2 separate regions of the Homo sapiens genome follow, and region 1 is linked to region 2. Evidence: fine-mapped expression QTL. Tissue or cell type: whole blood. Region 2 holds a variant in brackets; the other region holds the start of a gene. All regions are shown on one strand. Distances are between the middles of the regions.

Region 1 (8,100 bases), 39 kb before region 2:
TTTTTTCTGTATTTTTAGTAGAGATGGGGTTTCACCATGTTGGCCAGGCTGGTCTCAAATTCCTGGCCTCAGGTGATTGGCTCAGCTTGGCCTCCCAAAGTTCTGGGATTACAGGCGTGAGCCACCACGCTGGGCCCCTAATTCCTCTTTAAATCATGTCAGTTTGCTTCTCTTCCCCACAATGTGATGGGTGACTGTAGGCCTGATCTCCTGGGGTTATGAAAAAATGCCATCCAGCCTTGGGGGTGGGTTACTGGCAGGAGGTTTGAGTGTTGGATGCTTCCCCTTTACCCTTGCCTCTTGCTTCCCTAGTCCTTCAGTTAGACCCTATTGCTCTCTCTGTTGCCCTGGTAACCAGCTCTGCAAGAAGAAACTCAAGCTCAGCAAAGCCCCCAGGTTCTCTCTATCCTCCCAGCCTGCCTCTGGGTGGGCAGAAAGAAGAGGGTGTGTAAGCAGCAGACAGATAGCCTGAGGTGGCCCTGCCCAGTCCCCTTGTAGAAGCCCATGGGCTCAAAAAAAGCTCAAAGCTTTTTCGCCCCCATCTCATAGTTGTTATTCATACCACCCTGCCTTCCTCTTTATTTCTTCCATAAGCGGGTGCAAATGCTCTGCCAGCTCTCTTCCCCTTCAGGGTCAGCGCACAGACCTGCTACCTTGTAGGCAACTCGGAGCACCAAAGACTTGGAATTCCAAAGTCAGCTCCCAGCATCTGCAGCCCACTTGGGTTGACTGTCCGTCTAGGGCAGTGATTTTCAATCCTGGCCATTTGTGTCATGTGAGGAGCTTTTTAAAAAATACCATAAGCCTTCGCCCTGGTTCAGAAATCTGATTTAATTGGTCTGAGATATGGCCTAGGCATCAGTTTTTTTTTTGTTTGTTTGTTTTTTTTTTTTTTGAGACAGTCTTGCTCTTGTTGCCCAGGCTGGAGTGCAGTGGCATGATCTCGGCTCACTGCAGCCTCCACCTCCCGGGTTCAAGCGATTCTCCTGCCTCAGCCTCCTGAGTAGCTGAGATTACAGGCACCAGCCACCATGCCCAGCAAATGTTTGTATTTTTAGTAGAGACAGGGTTTCACTATGTTGGCCAGACTGGTCTCGAACTTCTGACCTCATGTTGCACCCTTCTCGGCCTCCCAAAGTACCGGGATTATAGGCGTGAGCTGTTGCACTTGGCCAGTATTTTTTTTTTTTTTTTAATATGGAGTCTCTCACCCAGGCTGGAGTGCAGTGGCATGATAACAGCTCACTGCAACCTTCACCTCCCAGGTTCAAGCAATCCTTCTACCTCAGCCTCCAAAGTAGCTTGGATTACAGGTGTGTGCCACCATGCCCGGCTAATTTTTTTTGTATTTTTAGAAGTGGGGTTTCACCATGTTGGTCAGGCTGGTCTTGAACTCATGACCTCAAGTGATCTGCCCGCCTTGGCTTCCCAAAGTGTTGAGATTACAGGCGTGAGCCACCAAGCCCAGCCAGCATCAGTATTTCTGAGAAGCTTCCCTGTGATTCCAGTGTGTAGTCAGGGTGAAAACCACTGCCACTCCAGGAGGACCATGACTTGATGCTGGCTCTCCTCACTGATTCAAAATGTTGAACTTAGTCTCTGCCTGACATCCTTGAGCATTTGGGGGAGTACTGGGGTCCTGTGTCCCAAGCTTCTAGCTTCCAGAAGTCTCTCAGTCTGTTTTATTTTCAACCCCCTACACCCTTCACACTCCCCAATTCGCCCTTCCTAACCAACAATTCCCAAATCCTGCCCAGAGAGAAGGTTACCAAGGCAACCGGCTTAATCTGGTAACTGTGGCATGTGCTGGGAGAGAAGCCCTTCCCTCTTCCTATTCAGTTCATAAAATGCTACCTGGGGAGCTCCAACCCATTCCAGCCACTTTCCCCTTTCAAGCCAGGGGATATTGGAGTGTCCAATAAGGGGAGCACAGGAAGCTGATACTCAGACCTCTAATACAGCTTCTTAGCCAAAATTGTGCGCTGTCTTCTTTTTACTGTTTCCAAATCCACAAACAGATGGGTGTGCAAAGCTTTATTTCTGTGAACACATGCTCTAGCACACATGGGAACAGATATGCACATACATTGATACGTATGTCATACACACCCTGTTCAGTTTTACTACCACTCCCAGCCATTAGCATTCCTGTCTCTGCCTGGTTGGTGCTCGGTAAACAGGGGTGGGGCATTGTCCAGAGAGCCTCAACCCATCGAGAACCTGCTGCCACTCCCACACCTTGTAAGTCTAACCTGGATGTTCTCACACTTAGCATGGCTTTACGATGCACCCCCCTCCTCCCCCACACTCCTTCTGGGGCAGCATATCCTTAAGGACAGAATGCTCCTGGTGTGGGCATCAGGAGTAAGGATTACTTGGAGTGCTAATTGGCACCACTTTTCCCACTCCATGGCCATGTACACTTGGGCTCTGTGCTTGATGATAGTCGGCAGTTCTGGGGCTTGTCACCTGTCTCCATGGCCCTGCTTCCTTCTGCTGCCAGCTGGGCTCAGGTGCCCTTGTGCTCCTGGTCTCCTCCCCACTGCCTATTATCCCCTCCTCACCCCAGCTAGACCTGCCACAACCTGCTGCTCCCTGCCTGGCTCCTACCTGCCTGCCAGTACCTGCCCACAGACCAGGCCCACACCACCTATTGTGCCCTACCAGAGAGGACAGATGGGCACCGCCTCCAGTGGCAATGCTAATTCACCCAAGAGGCCTTCCCAGCTCTTCTCACAGAAGGAAGATAAACTCCACATATTTCTGTGAGTATGAGAAAGGTGCACACTCTTGGGTTCAGCAATCTGTAGGCCTGACTTGGGTACACAGGTAGGTGAGTGAAGGTGTCCAGGCCACAGACCTGTCCTGACTCTTTGAAATGATGCTGAGACCCGGTTATCCCTTGAGCCAGGAATCCTTCCCCATTGGTAAATCTCTGACTTACCTTTGCCCTTAATTTCTTCTGCTTAGAACCCAAGTCCCTTACTGTTTCCCTCGCGGTCAACCCCAGCGCGCGAGTTCAAGCCTCGTGCGGCGCGGGGGCGAGCCGAGGAAGGGTAGGGGCGGGGACTGGGCGGGGACTGGAGGAGGGGGCGCGGTCTCGGTTCTGCCACCTTCCCCCTCTTCACGGCCAGGAGCGCAGCCGCCGCCGCCGCCGCCGCCGCGTCCTCTCAGCCTTGCGCTCCGCCCGCTGCCTCTGCCGCCGCAGCGCAGAGCCGGGCGCACCGGCCCCGCAGCCTGCCCACTCTTCGGGCCGCGTGCCGGCTGCAGCCGGCATGGGGGGTTGCTGAGAGCGAGCACTCCTTTCCTCTGGCACCTCCCCCGGCTACTGGCCACTGGACTCTGGCCAGCGAGGCTCGGCCCCTCTGGCCCCCAGTCTGGCGCCTGGCACGGCCCTCTACTCTGCTCCTCCAGCTCTGAGCATCGTGTCTTCGCCGCCCCCCCCGCCCGCGCCTGGGATACCTGGGTCCCCCGGCGACCCCTAGGAGAGGGGCGGGGGGGGGCATGAAGCCGCTGGAGAAATTTCTGAAGAAGCAGACGTCGCAGCTGGCGGGCCGAACGGTGGCGGGAGGTCCCGGCGGGGGTCTGGGGAGCTGCGGTGGGCCTGGAGGGGGTGGGGGACCCGGCGGGGGCGGCGGTCCAGCCGGGGGACAGCGGTCGTTGCAGCGGCGTCAGAGCGTGTCTCGCCTGCTGCTCCCCGCTTTCCTCCGGGAGCCCCCCGCCGAGCCGGGGCTGGAGCCGCCCCCTGAGGAGGAAGGAGGAGAGCCGGCGGGGGTCGCGGAGGAGCCGGGCAGCGGGGGGCCCTGCTGGCTGCAGCTGGAGGAGGTGCCGGGGCCCGGGCCTCTCGGGGGAGGGGGGCCCCTGCGCTCCCCTTCCTCCTACTCATCTGACGAGCTGTCCCCAGGCGAGCCCTTGACTTCGCCGCCCTGGGCCCCTCTGGGCGCCCCCGAGCGGCCCGAGCATCTTCTGAACCGGGTTCTGGAGCGGCTTGCTGGAGGGGCTACCAGGGACAGCGCCGCCTCAGGTAAGGAGCCGGTGGGCTCGAACACCCAGAGCAGGGGCTGGCCCCGGCTCCTCTTCCTTGCCCTTGGAGCGTAGGGGTGGCGCCGTGCCGGGGCTTGGTTATAGGGTTGAGTGGTCCGCGGAAGCCGGCTAGGGGCCTAGCGGAGGTACAGACCCTCCCGCGGAAGAGGAGAGCAGTACTCACCTTCCTCCCTACAGCAGCCTCACCCTCGTCTGGAGAAGCAGCTGAGCCTCTTACTCTCCTTCAGCCACCCTTCCTTTCCCCTGGGCATTGGAGCCACTGACTCCCATGGGTCCCTGATGTTGAATACCTCCTCCTGTGGCCCCAAATTAGGGCCTGACACATTAAAATGGGAGCTGCCCAGCGCAGCCATGCCACCCGCCAGAGGTGCTTTAGCCCTGAAAACCCTGGGGTCCCTGACTGTTCAGAGGCCTACACAGCGCAGGCTGACCCACCCAGGGAGGCAGTGCCAGACAGGCACAGGCCCCAAGCTGCCTTTTAGGCATCAGCAAAGGGATGCGTTGTCCTTAGCAGTTTGGTGGGGGGGATAGTATTCTCCTTGGGCTGGACTCAGAAGGTGTCTGGGAGGGGAGAGGTGGCTGGGCCGGCATCATGGCCCTGCAGCATCCAGGGTGTCCAAGCGCCTCCAGCTTCCACCCTTCGGTGGCAGGCCTCAGCACCCGGCTTTTTTTTTTTTTTCTTTTGGAGATGTAGTCTCACTGTCACCCAGGCTGGAGTGCAGTGGCGCCATCTCAGCTCACTGCAACCTCCACCGCCCAGGTTCAAGCGATTCTCCTGCCTCAGCCTCCTGAGTAGCTGGGACTACAGGCATGTGGCACCACGCCTGGCTAATTTTTGTATTTTTAGTAGAGACAGGGGTTTCACCGTGTTAGCCAGGATGGTCTCGAACTCCTGACCTCGTGATCCACCTGCCTTGGCCTCCCAAAGTGCTGGGATTACAGGCGTGAGCCACTGGCCTGGCTAATTTTTGTAGTTTTAGTAGAGACGGGGTTTCGGGGTTTCACCAACTTGGTCAGGCTGGTCTTGAACTCCTGACCTCGTTATCTACCTCCCCCCACCCCCACCCCACGGCCTCCCAAAGTGCTGGGATTACAGGCGTGAGCCACCGGACCTGGCACACGGCCTCTTTAAAATATAATCACCACACCCTGAGAAGCTTATTCCCTAAATGATGATACTATTTCACCACTCCCTTTCAGCACCCCTACTAAGGGGCCTTTGAGGAAACCAAGGCCCCAAATCTGGTTAGTTCTGAGGTAGAAGACCGAGGGTTCTTTAGGTCTAGCTCTAGGCATTACTCTAAGCCCAGGAGGGTCTGAGGTTTGGGAGCCCCGGCTGAGGCCCTAATGGTGAGGGCTTTCACACTTGCTCTCAGCCCTCGGCAGGGAACCCCAACCTAGATGTGTGGAGGGGGGCTCCACTCTCCTAGATCCTTCTCAAGACCTGGGTCCTCTCCTTTGGAGCAGGCTGTAGTTGCCCTGGGGAGCTGACACCTTTTGGATTTAATTAGAAAAATATCAGACACACACAGCTCTCCTAACCATAACTTCCCGCCTACACCACACACCCTGTGTCTCTATGACACATTCCCTAGGGAGGCTGTACATTGGCCCAGAGCCTGCTTTGGAAAAGACAGATGCCCAACTGTGGCCCCCATATCAGCATCTCCCCAACTCTGCCCCATCTTACTCTTCCTTTGCTCCAGCTTAGGAATCCTGTGAGATAAAGTCTATGAAGGATGTCAGGCCTCTCGTTTCCTCACCCTCATCCCTGAAGCTGGGGGTCAGAGCTGGAGGCTCTCTGACTCATTGTAAGAACACAGCAGGGTAGCTGGGCAGGGAGGAAAAGGGAGAAGCTGTCTTTCCCCTTTTACAGGGGCCTGGTGCCACACGCTCCGCTCATTCTCCCCTGGGGTAAGACTCCTGAAATGTCACCCATGTTATCTGGCAGCCTGGATCCCCAGAGTAACTAGTTTGGGAAATTCCAAACCAGTCCCAGGTGAATGAGAATCAGCTTAACCTGCCACTCTGATGTTCTCCAATAAAACCAATGTTCTCAAGTCATCCTGGTCTCCTCCCAGGGTGTGTGGGAGGAGAGAACTTACAGAAGTTACTCTGAACCTACCAAAGCCTCTCCAACGTCCAAGCAGCCCCCTCTGACCGCTAGGTTTTACCCTAACACTCTGCTTGCCTCAGGCATATTGAGAAAAGGACAAAGACTCAGGATTCTGGGTTCTTATTCCAGCTCCAGGCAAGTCCCTCCCAGCTCTGGGCCTCAGTTTCACATTTGCGAAATGAAATCCTTGAAGTCAATTACTTTGTGTTGGTTTTCCTCCTCCGCCTGCATGGCTAGAACTGACCACAGGAGATAGTGAACCAAGGGGAGTCAGAAGCCTTGGTTTTGTCCTGGGACAGTGCCTGGGGACCTGGCCCTAACCAGTCCTGGTGAGGACACCTGGCTCCCTCCCTGCACCTTGTCTGTCTGTGTGTGCCAGGTGGCCCTGCCCCACCCCAGGGCTGGCTGCAAGTCAGGGCGACCTTGTACCCGGCTGACTGGCTGAGCCAGGCCCAGACGGGGGTGTGGAGGGGAAAGGGGTGGTGAGAGGAGCCGCTCCCCTTCACCATTCCATCATTAACCCTTCTGTCTCTGGGCCCCTAAAGGACACAGGATTTCTATTTAAAGGTTCTGGGATCAAAGTGATGGCAGTCTCTCCATCTCCCTTTTAATCAGGCTGGTTCCCACCTGCCTAGTTAGAACTCAAAGCTGTTAGGTGGGAAATGGGGAGGGGAAGAGGGATACACACACATGCACACACACAGTCCCCACTGATGCTAACCTCTGTGTTTGGAAATACTCTTTGTCTGGAGACACTTCTGTGGGCTACTTCTTTTTTCAGGCAGAACTCAACCTTGGTGTGTTATCTGACCAACTTCCCACATACGCTGAAGAGAAGTGCACATGGCCATCAAAGGCACGCGCCCCCCCCTTCCCTTCAGCTGCCTTGGCAGCTGCCGAACCCACCCTCGCAGTGGCTGCCCAGAACCTTTACACATGTATGTGTGCGCGTGTGCAGAGCATGACAAGGCAGGTGGCTGGGGCTCCAGCCTGGCTAAAGAGAACTTGCCCTTAGGGGCAAGAGAGGGAGGCACTGCATTTCCAGTTTCGTTCTGGAAGTGCCCACCTGACATCTGTGGTGCCCACTGATCTTTACAGATATCCTGCTGGATGACATTGTCCTTACCCATTCTCTCTTCCTCCCGACGGAGAAATTTCTGCAGGAGCTACACCAGTAATATCCTTTTGTGGAGTTTGGAAAAGGAGAGGTCAGAAGGGAGCCACTCCCTCCGTCCCACATGCAATCTCAGAGCCTAAACTCTCCCCTAGGAAACATACCTGGGGCCGAGTGCAGTGGCTCACACCTGTAATCCCAGCACTTTGGGAGGCTGAGGCAGGCGGATCACCTGAGGTCAGGAGATCAAGACCAGCCAGGCTAACATAGTGAAACACCATCTCTACTAAAAATAGAAAAAATTAGCCAGGCATGGTGCCACGCACCTGTAATCTCAGCTACTTGGGAGGCTGAGGCAGGAGAATCACTTGAACCCGGGAGGCAAAGGTTGCAGTGAGCCGAGATCGCGTCACTACACTCCAGCCTGAGTGACAGAGTGAGACTCCATCTCAAAAAAAAAAGAAAAGAAAACATACCTGGGTTTCAGTCCCAGCTTTTCTACTCATCAGCTGTGTGACTTGTACAGATTACCTAACCTCATGGGGACTCAGTTTCCTTTTCTGTAAAATGGAGGTAAATAGCACCTGCCCTGCCTATCTATTAGCTGCTATGAAGATCAGTCTGATAGCAGATGTGGGAGTGCTTTGGAGGCTGCAGAGCCCTGTACAAATGAAAGGTGTTATTTATTTATTTATTTTGAGATGGAGTCTTGCTCTGTCACCCAGGCTGGAGTACAGTGGTGCGACCTTGGCTCACTGCAGCCTCTGCCTCCTGGGTTCAAGCGATTCTCCTGCCTCAGCCTCCCCCATAGCTGGGGACTACAGGC
Region 2 (8,100 bases):
AAACAAAAAACAAAAAAAAACCACACACACAGGCTCAGCGGGGTGCGGTGGCTCACGCCTGTAATCCCAGCACTTTGGGAGTCCGAGGAGGGTGGATCACAAGGTCAGGAGTTCCAGACCAGCCTGGCCAACATAGTGAAACCCCTTCTCTACTAAAAAATACAAAAATTAGCCAGGTGTGGTGGAGCACGCCTGTAATTCCAGGTACTCAGGAGGCTGATGCAGGAGAATTGCTTGAACCCAGGAGGTGGAGTTTGCAGTGAGCTGAAATCATGCCACTGCTCTCCAGCCTGGGCGACAGGGCAAGATGTGTCTCGAAAAAAAAAAAAGGGGTTGGGCGCAGTAGCACATTCCTCTAATTCCAGCACTTTGGGAGGCCAAGGCTGGCGGATCACCTGAGGTCAGGAGTTCAAGACCAGCCTGACCAACATGGATAAACCCCGTCTCTACTAAAAATACAAAATTAGCTGGGCATGGTGGCACATGCCTGTAATCCCAGCTACTAGGGAGGCTGAGGCAGCAGAATAGTTTGAACCCAGGAGGTGGAGGTTGCGGTGAGCCGAGATCTCGCCATTGCACTCTAGCCTGGGCAACAAGAGTGAAACTCTGTCTCAAAAAAAAAAAAAAAAAATGCCGGGCGCAGTGGCTCACGCCTGTAATCCCAGCACTTTGGGAGGCCGAGGCGGGCGGATCACGAGGTCAGGAGATTGAGACCATCCTGGCTAACATGGTGAAACCCCGTCTCTACCAAAAATACAAAAAAAAAAAATTAGCCAGGTGTGGTGGTGGGCTCCTGTAGTCCCAGCTACTCAGGAGGCTGAGGCAGGAGAATGGTGTGAGCCTGGGAGGTGGAACTTGCAGTGAGCCGAGATCTCGCCACTGCACTCCAGCCTGGGCGAGAGAGCGAGACTCCATCTCAAAACAAACAAACAAACAAACAAAAAAACAAAGGGCCAGGTGTGGTGGCTTACACCTGTAATCCCAGCACTTTGGGAGGCCAAGGCAGGTGGATCACTTGAGGTCAGGAATTCAAGACCAGCCTGGCAAATATGATGAAACCTCATTTCTACTAAAAATACAAAAACTAGCCGGGCGTGCTGGCATGTGCCTGCAATCCCAGCTACTCGGGAGGCTGAAGCAGAAGAATTGCTTGAACCCGGGAGGCAGAGGTTGCAGTGAGCCGAGATCGCGCCATTGCACTTCAGCCTGGGCAACACAGCAAGACTGTCTGAAACAAACAAACAAAAAACACAGACTCTGGAGATACTTTTACTTTCGCTACTTATAGATATGTGACTTTGAGCAAGATGATTAACCTTGCTGTGTCTGTTTCTTCATCTGTAAAATGGGCTTAAAAATATCTGCCTCAGAAAGTTATTGAGAGGATTAAATGAGCTATGTGAGGTTTTGACAGTGCCTGGCACATGGTAAGTGTTACTAAATGTCAAACTTATGATGACTTCTGTAACCTAATTTCTTGCCTCCCCCAGAAGTTCTAACTCTATATCAATATATTTTCTGAACCAGGTGAGGTGGCTCACACCTGTAATCCCAGCACTTTGGGAGGCCGAAGTAGGAGGATCACTTGAGGCCAGGAGTTCCACACCACCTGGGCAACAAAGGGAGATGCTGTGTCTGTGAAAAGAAAAAAATTGGCCGGGCACCGTGGCTCACGCCTGTAATTCTAGCACTTTGGGAGGCCTAGGCAGGTGGATCACGAGGTCAGGAGATCGAGACCATCCTGGCTAACACGGTGAAACCTCATCTCTACTGAAAATACAAAAAATTAGCTGGGCGTGGTGGCGGGCGCTTGTAGTCCCAGCTACTTGGGAGGCTGAGGCAGGAGAATGGCATGAACCCTGGAGGCGGAGCTTGCAGTGAGCCGAGATTGCACCACTGCACTCCAGCCTGGGGGACAGAGCGAGATTCCTTCTCAAAAAAAAAAGAAAGAAAGAAAAAGAAAAAAAATGTAAAAATTAGCTGCATGTGGTCACCAGTGCCTGCAGTCCCAAATAGGAGGCTGAGGCAGAAGGACCACTTGAGCCCAGAAGTTCAAGACTACAGGCCAGGTGTGGTGGCTCACGCCCATAATCCCAGCACTTTGGGAGACCAAGGTGGATGGATTATCTGAGATCAGGAGTTTGAGACCAGCCTGGCCAACTTGGTGAAACCCCATCTCTACTAAAAACACAAAAATTAGGGCCAGGCGCAGTGGCTCACAACTCTAATCCCAGCACTTTGGAAGGCCAAGGCAGGTGGATCACCTGAGGTCTGGAGTTTGAGACCAACCTTGCCTACATGGTGAAACCCCATCTCTACTAAAAATACAAAAAATTAGCCGGGCGTGTTGGCAGGCGCCTGTAATCCCAGCTACTCGGGAGGCTGAGGCAGGAGAATCGCTTGAACCCGGGAGGCGAGCTGAGATTGCGCCATTGCACTCCAGCCTGGGCAACAAGAGAGAAACTCTGTCTCAAAAAAAAAAAAATACAAAAATTAGACAGGCATGGTGGCTGGTGCCTGTAGTCCCAGCTACTCGGGAGGCTGAGGCAGGAGAATCGCTTGAAGCCAGGAGATGGAGGTTGCATTGAGCTGAGATCACACCACTGCACTCCAGCCTGAGCAATAGAGTGAGACTCATTTTCAAAAAATAGAAAAAATAAAAAGACTGCAGGCCAGGCGCAGTGGCTCATACCTGTAATCCCAGCACTTCAGGAGGCCGAGGCGGGCGGATCATGAGGTCAGGAGATCGAGCCCATCCTGGGTAACATGGTGAAACCTCGTCTTTACTAAAACTACAAAAAAAAAAAAAAAATTAGCCAGGCATGGTGGCAGGTGCCTGTAGTCCCAGCTACTCGGGAGGCTGAGGCAGGAGAATGGTGTGAACCCAGGAGGCGGAGCTTGCAGTGAGCCGAGATTGCGCCACTGCACTCTAGCCTGTGCGTCAGAGCGAGACTCTGTCTCCAAAAAAAAAAAAAAAAAAGACTGCAGTGAGCCATTACTGTGCCACTGCACTGCAGCATGTCTTTAAAAGACCCTGTCTCTTAAAAAAAAAAAAAAGTGCGTTCAGTTATTGGAATGTGCCATGATTCTTCTTGCTTTGCCCAAACTCTCCCTACAATGCTTTTCCTTCACTTCTTCCCTGGTCAATTCCTACCTGTCCCTCAAGTCTCACTTAGAATATGGGTATGGCCTCACTTAGTTACTTTCTTTTTTCTTCCTTTAGACAGGGTTTCACTCTATTGCTCGGGCTGGAGTGCAGTGGCCAATCATGGCTCAGCCCAGCCTTGATCTCCTGGGCTTAAGTGATCCTCCCATATCAGCCTCCCAAGTAGCTGGAACCACAGGCTCACACCACCGTGTCCAGCTAATTTTTTTTTTTTTTTTTGAGACAGAGTCTCACTCTCGTTGCCCAGGCTAGAGTGCAATGGAGTGATCTCAGCTCACCGCTACCTCCGCCTCCTGGGTTCAAGCGATTCTCCTGCCTCAGCATCCCAAGTAGCTGGGATTACAGGCATGTGCCAACACACCTGGCTAATTTTGTATTTGTAGTAGAGACGGGGTTTCACCATGTTGGTCAGGTTGGTCTCGAACTCCCCACCTCAGGTGATCTGCCCGCCTTGGCCTCCCAAAGTGCTGGGATTACGGGCGTGAGCCACCGTGCCCGGTTATATCCGGGTAATTTTTGTAGTAACAAGATTTCACCATGTTTCCCAGGCTGGTCTTGAACTTCTGGGCTCAAGCGATCCCCCCTGTCAGCCTCCCAAAGTGCTGGGATTACAGGCATGAGCCACTGCACTTGGGCCATTTACCTTTTTCATGAAGCCTATATCACTATTTCCCCAAGTCTGGGTGAGATGTCCCTATATTCATCCCAGCGGCTGCCCTTATCACAGAGTGTGTGATAGAGCATGGGGCTTTACATTAGCTACAGTGGGCAGTGAATGCCCTCTGAGGACGAAGCATTTGCAGTAAGGCTTGAAAAATGAGGAAGAGGCGGAGGATAGCCAGTACACAGTCCCTGAGGTGGGAACTGCTGAATGGGGTACATTGCAGTGATAGAAATCAGGTCCTCATAATGTAGAGTGAGTGAGGAGGGGACAGGCAGGGGATGAGGTTGAAGAGTTGGGAGGCTCTGGTAAGGTGTTTGGACCCACCATCTCCCTGGCTCCATCGCCCCACGTATGGCCATGCAGGATGTAGACAGCTGAAAATCTTTACCTCGTGTCCTTGATCCCTATGCCTGCTGTGTTCCCTGCCTTCTCTGATTAATAATAAAATTCCATTCATCCTTCAAGGCCCAGCTCCAAACCATTTAGGAAACCTCCTTCCATTCTTTAGCAGGAATTAATTGCTCCCTTGTCTGACGTCCCACAGCACTAATCACACGCTGACTTGTATCTCAGCTAGCTGTTTATGCCAGTCTGCCCACCAACGTAGTGAGTTCCCTGAGGGCAGAGGCTCTGTCTTAGTCACCTCTGTAGCCATCTCCTGGTGTTTAGCAGGTACTCAATGTGACATTTACTTGACTAGTGGGTGGTGCCTAGTACTACTCATGGCAGAATAGAAGGAAAACAAAAATAATAACAAC[T/G]TATGCTCTATCACGTTTTCCCATTCATTAACTGATTTCAGCTTTGCAACAACTCTATGAGACAGACGGGACAGGCACTATTAGACCCATTTTACAGATAGGGTAGCTAAGGCCCAATGGCACACAGCTTGTAAGTAATGGGGACTAAGTCCCAATCTTGCCCCCTTACTTCGGATTCTGTGCTGGGAATGGAATTAAACCAAGAGTATTTTGAAGCTATAATGGAAAGCGCTTTTCTGGGTGGACTAGGGAGAGATACTTAGTCAGCTGTCAGGGTTTAACAGCAGCTCCATCAAAGAGGGCACAGGATTTCTCTCTCTGGCCCAAGCAGCTGGAGGGGTCCACAGCACCATCCTATAGCCCTGGAAGCTGGAGGAAACCCCAGCCCGAGAAAGAAGAGACGGTGTTCGAGTCAGGTGGGTAAGATGACGTAAATGATGACTTGTGAGCAGTGGCCTGCCTCTGTTGCCATGACAACCGGAGCTTGACTACTTGGCCTTTGCAAGGTTGGCCGAGGCGGGTTCTTCGTTAACTCGAGATTAAGGAAGGATATTTAGGGGGGAGGGTGTGTGTGTGTGCGGCGGATTAAAGACGAAAGGAGTATATTCAACAATGACTGTTTAGCTCAGTGGTTCTCCACCTTGGCAACACGTTAGAATCACCTGCAACAATTTCCTGATGCCTAGGCTGCACCCCAGAATTAAATTATAATTTCCAGGGGTGGGAACCAGGCATCATAGTATTTAAATCTTGCCAGGTGATTCCAATTGCAGCTAAAGTTGCAAACCCAGCTTTTAGCTGGTAAGCGGAATTCCTGTGACCTTCCTAAGATGGCGTCCACTCAACCGCTTCCGCCTTTACGTGGGCCGGCAGGGGGCGGGCTTCCCAGGGGCGCATGCGTCTCGCATCTCTCCGCTCCCTGCTCTCTCCTCCTTTTTCCCCCGCCTCCATTTTGTTCGCGGACGCTGGGGACGGTGGGAGCAGATCCATTTCCGGGTTGGCAAAAGGGGCGGTGGCGGCGGCGGCGGCGGCGGCGGCGGCGGCGACGGCGAGAAAGAGCTTGCCGGGGGGCGAGCAGGACAGGACGAAGCCGGAGTGTAGGCGGCAGAGGATTCGCTCCCAGAGCAGCTGCGGCCAGGTCGGAAAGAGGCCGGGGCGGCTGGGTCAGTCGCTGAAATGACCTGCGGACCTGAGTGGGAGGGAAAGTCGCGGGGAGGGGGGCTCGGGGCGGGGCTTGAGAAGAGAGGGGGGCATTAGAGGAGGGGCCGGAGGGGGAGAGGGGTCTTGCGGGTGGGGCCTGAGGGGCGGGGGGCCGGGGGACTGTATCGGAAGAACCTGGAGGAGAGAGGGCGTGGGGAATCTGGGGAGGAGTGGTCGAATATTGGTATGGGGCGAGCGGGGACTGGAAAAATGGGGAGGAACGTTTTTGAGAGACAGGCAATAAGGGCTCCTGAAGGGTTGGGTGAGTTAAGGCGGCAACTCTGTGAGGAACGAGGTAATCGTGCGCAAAAAGGGAGACGGGAACGGAGGACCTGTTGGGAACGGCTAATTAGCAGGATGCTGTGGGTGAGGAGTCCAGTGTGACATTTTGGGGATTGAGTTAGGTGAAAGCTAGTGTTTGGGAAGATGGCTCGGGAAACTGCTTACACTAGAGGGAATCTTGAGAGCGTTCTTTGAAAAGGAATCAGAATTTAGTTAAAGGTTGGATTGAGAATGTTAAGATGCGCATTGGAACGTCTGGAGTTGAGGGTTCATGTTGAAGTGGTGTGAAGTGAGGGAAGATGGAATTTTTTTTTTTTTGTTTTAAAGGTGGGGTCTGGCTATGTTGCTCAGACTAGTCTTGAACTCCTGGGCTCAAGCGATCTTCCCACCTTGGACTCCCAGAGTGCTGGGATTACAGGTGTGAGCCACTGCACCCGGCCAAGATGGAAATGTTAAAGTGTTCAGCATGGCAGTGTGTATGGTCGAGTTTTTTATCAGGAAGGAAAGTTCTTAAAAATAGCATTGAGGCAAGGAACTGATATGTGATGGAATTCTTTTTTCTTTTTTTTTCTTTTAAGAGACGTGGTCTCACTCTGTCGCCCGGGCTGGAGTGCAGTGGCATGATCATGGCTCCTTAAAGCCTCGACCTCCCGGGCTGAAGTGGTCCTTCCACCTAAGCCCCGCCAATAGCTGGGACCACAGGTGTGACCACTACTCCCGCCTAACGTGTGTGTGTGTATATATATATATATATATATATATATATATATATATATATATATGTATATATATATATTTTTTTGTTGTTGTTGTTGGAGACAGAGTCTTGCCCTGTTGTCCAGGCTAGTCTGGAATTCCTGGGCTCAAGTGATCCTCCTGTCTCGGCCTCCGCAAGTGCTGGGATTACAGGGATGAGCCACTGTGCCTGGCCCAGAATTCGTTTTTTTTTTTTTTTTGAGATGGAGTCTCGCTCAGTGGCCTAGGCTGGAGTGTAGCGGTGCGATCTCGGCTCACTGCAAGCTCCGCCTCCCGGGTTCACGCCCATTCTTCTGCCTCAGCCTCCCGAGTAGCTGGGACTATAGGTGCCCACCACCACACCTGGCTAATTTTTTTTTGAATTTTTAGTAGAGACGGGGTTTCACTGTGTTAGCCAGGATGGATGGTCTGGATCTCCTGACCTCGTGATCCGCCCGCCTCTGCCTCCCAGAGTTCTGGGATTAGAGGCGTGAGCCCCTGCGCCTGTCCAGAATTCATATTTTTTAAAGGACTTGAATAATCTGTTATTGCTTTGGGCTCTCCCAGGGTCCCCGTCCTTTTTCATGCTGTTATTTTTGCCTTACGGTTTTGGTTTTTGACTGTCTTACTGAATGTTTTTGGCTATTCTGTTCTCCTTTTACAAATCAGAAGAGAACCACAGGGAATAAGGACAGTTTTAGCCTACCTATGGATTTAGTAAATAACTTCAAGGCAAATTATTAAGCTCTCATTTTTTTCCCCTTTGAAATATAGGTTTTCTCTGTCCCTGCCTCTAAAAGTTTGTCTTAACACATGGGATCTTTAAAGTGGTTGCATAGAAGTGATCTCTGAAAATGAGATTGAGATATTGATATTTAAAAGACATACAATGGTGCACCTGCCTGTAATCCCAGCTACTTGGGAGGCTGAGGCAGGAGGATTGCTTGAGTCTAAGAGTTCGAGACCATTCTGGGCAACGTAGCAATACCCCATCTCTCTCTCTGTCTCTTTTTTTGTTTGTTTGTTTAAGACGGAGTCTCGCTCTTTCACCCAGGCTGGAGTGCAGTGGCGTGATCTCGGCTCACTGCAACCTCTGCCTGCCGGATTCAAGCGCTTCTCCTGCCTCAGTCCCCCAAGTAACTGGTACTATAGGCATGCACCACCACGCCCAGCTAATTTTTTGTATTTTAGTAGAGATGGGGTTTCACCATGTTGGTCAGGCTGGTCTCGAACTCCTGACTTCAGGTGATCCACCCACCTCGGCCTCCCAAAGTGTTGAGATTACAGGCATGAGC

The links. PIP is the estimated chance that this variant, and not a neighbour inherited with it, causes the effect.
Region 1: it holds the start of RAPGEFL1, and the variant in region 2 is fine-mapped to the expression of RAPGEFL1 in whole blood (INTERVAL, PIP above 0.99).

What each region holds. Positions count from the first base shown.
Region 1 is chr17:40,174,358-40,182,457 of GRCh38, forward strand. RAPGEFL1 (Rap guanine nucleotide exchange factor like 1) reads left to right here and starts at 3,113. Exons shown (of 15, transcript NM_016339.6): 1 at 3,113-4,024; 2 at 7,259-7,337. The coding sequence starts at 3,505. RefSeq lists enhancers at 1,992-2,492, 2,493-2,993, 3,385-4,241, 4,242-5,096 and a silencer at 3,025-3,154.
Region 2 is chr17:40,213,767-40,221,866 of GRCh38, forward strand. WIPF2 (WAS/WASL interacting protein family member 2) reads left to right here and starts at 5,538. Exons shown (of 8, transcript NM_133264.5): 1 at 5,538-5,726. RefSeq lists enhancers at 4,879-4,928, 5,369-5,478, 5,379-6,157. The variant T/G (reference allele first, on the strand shown) is at 4,589.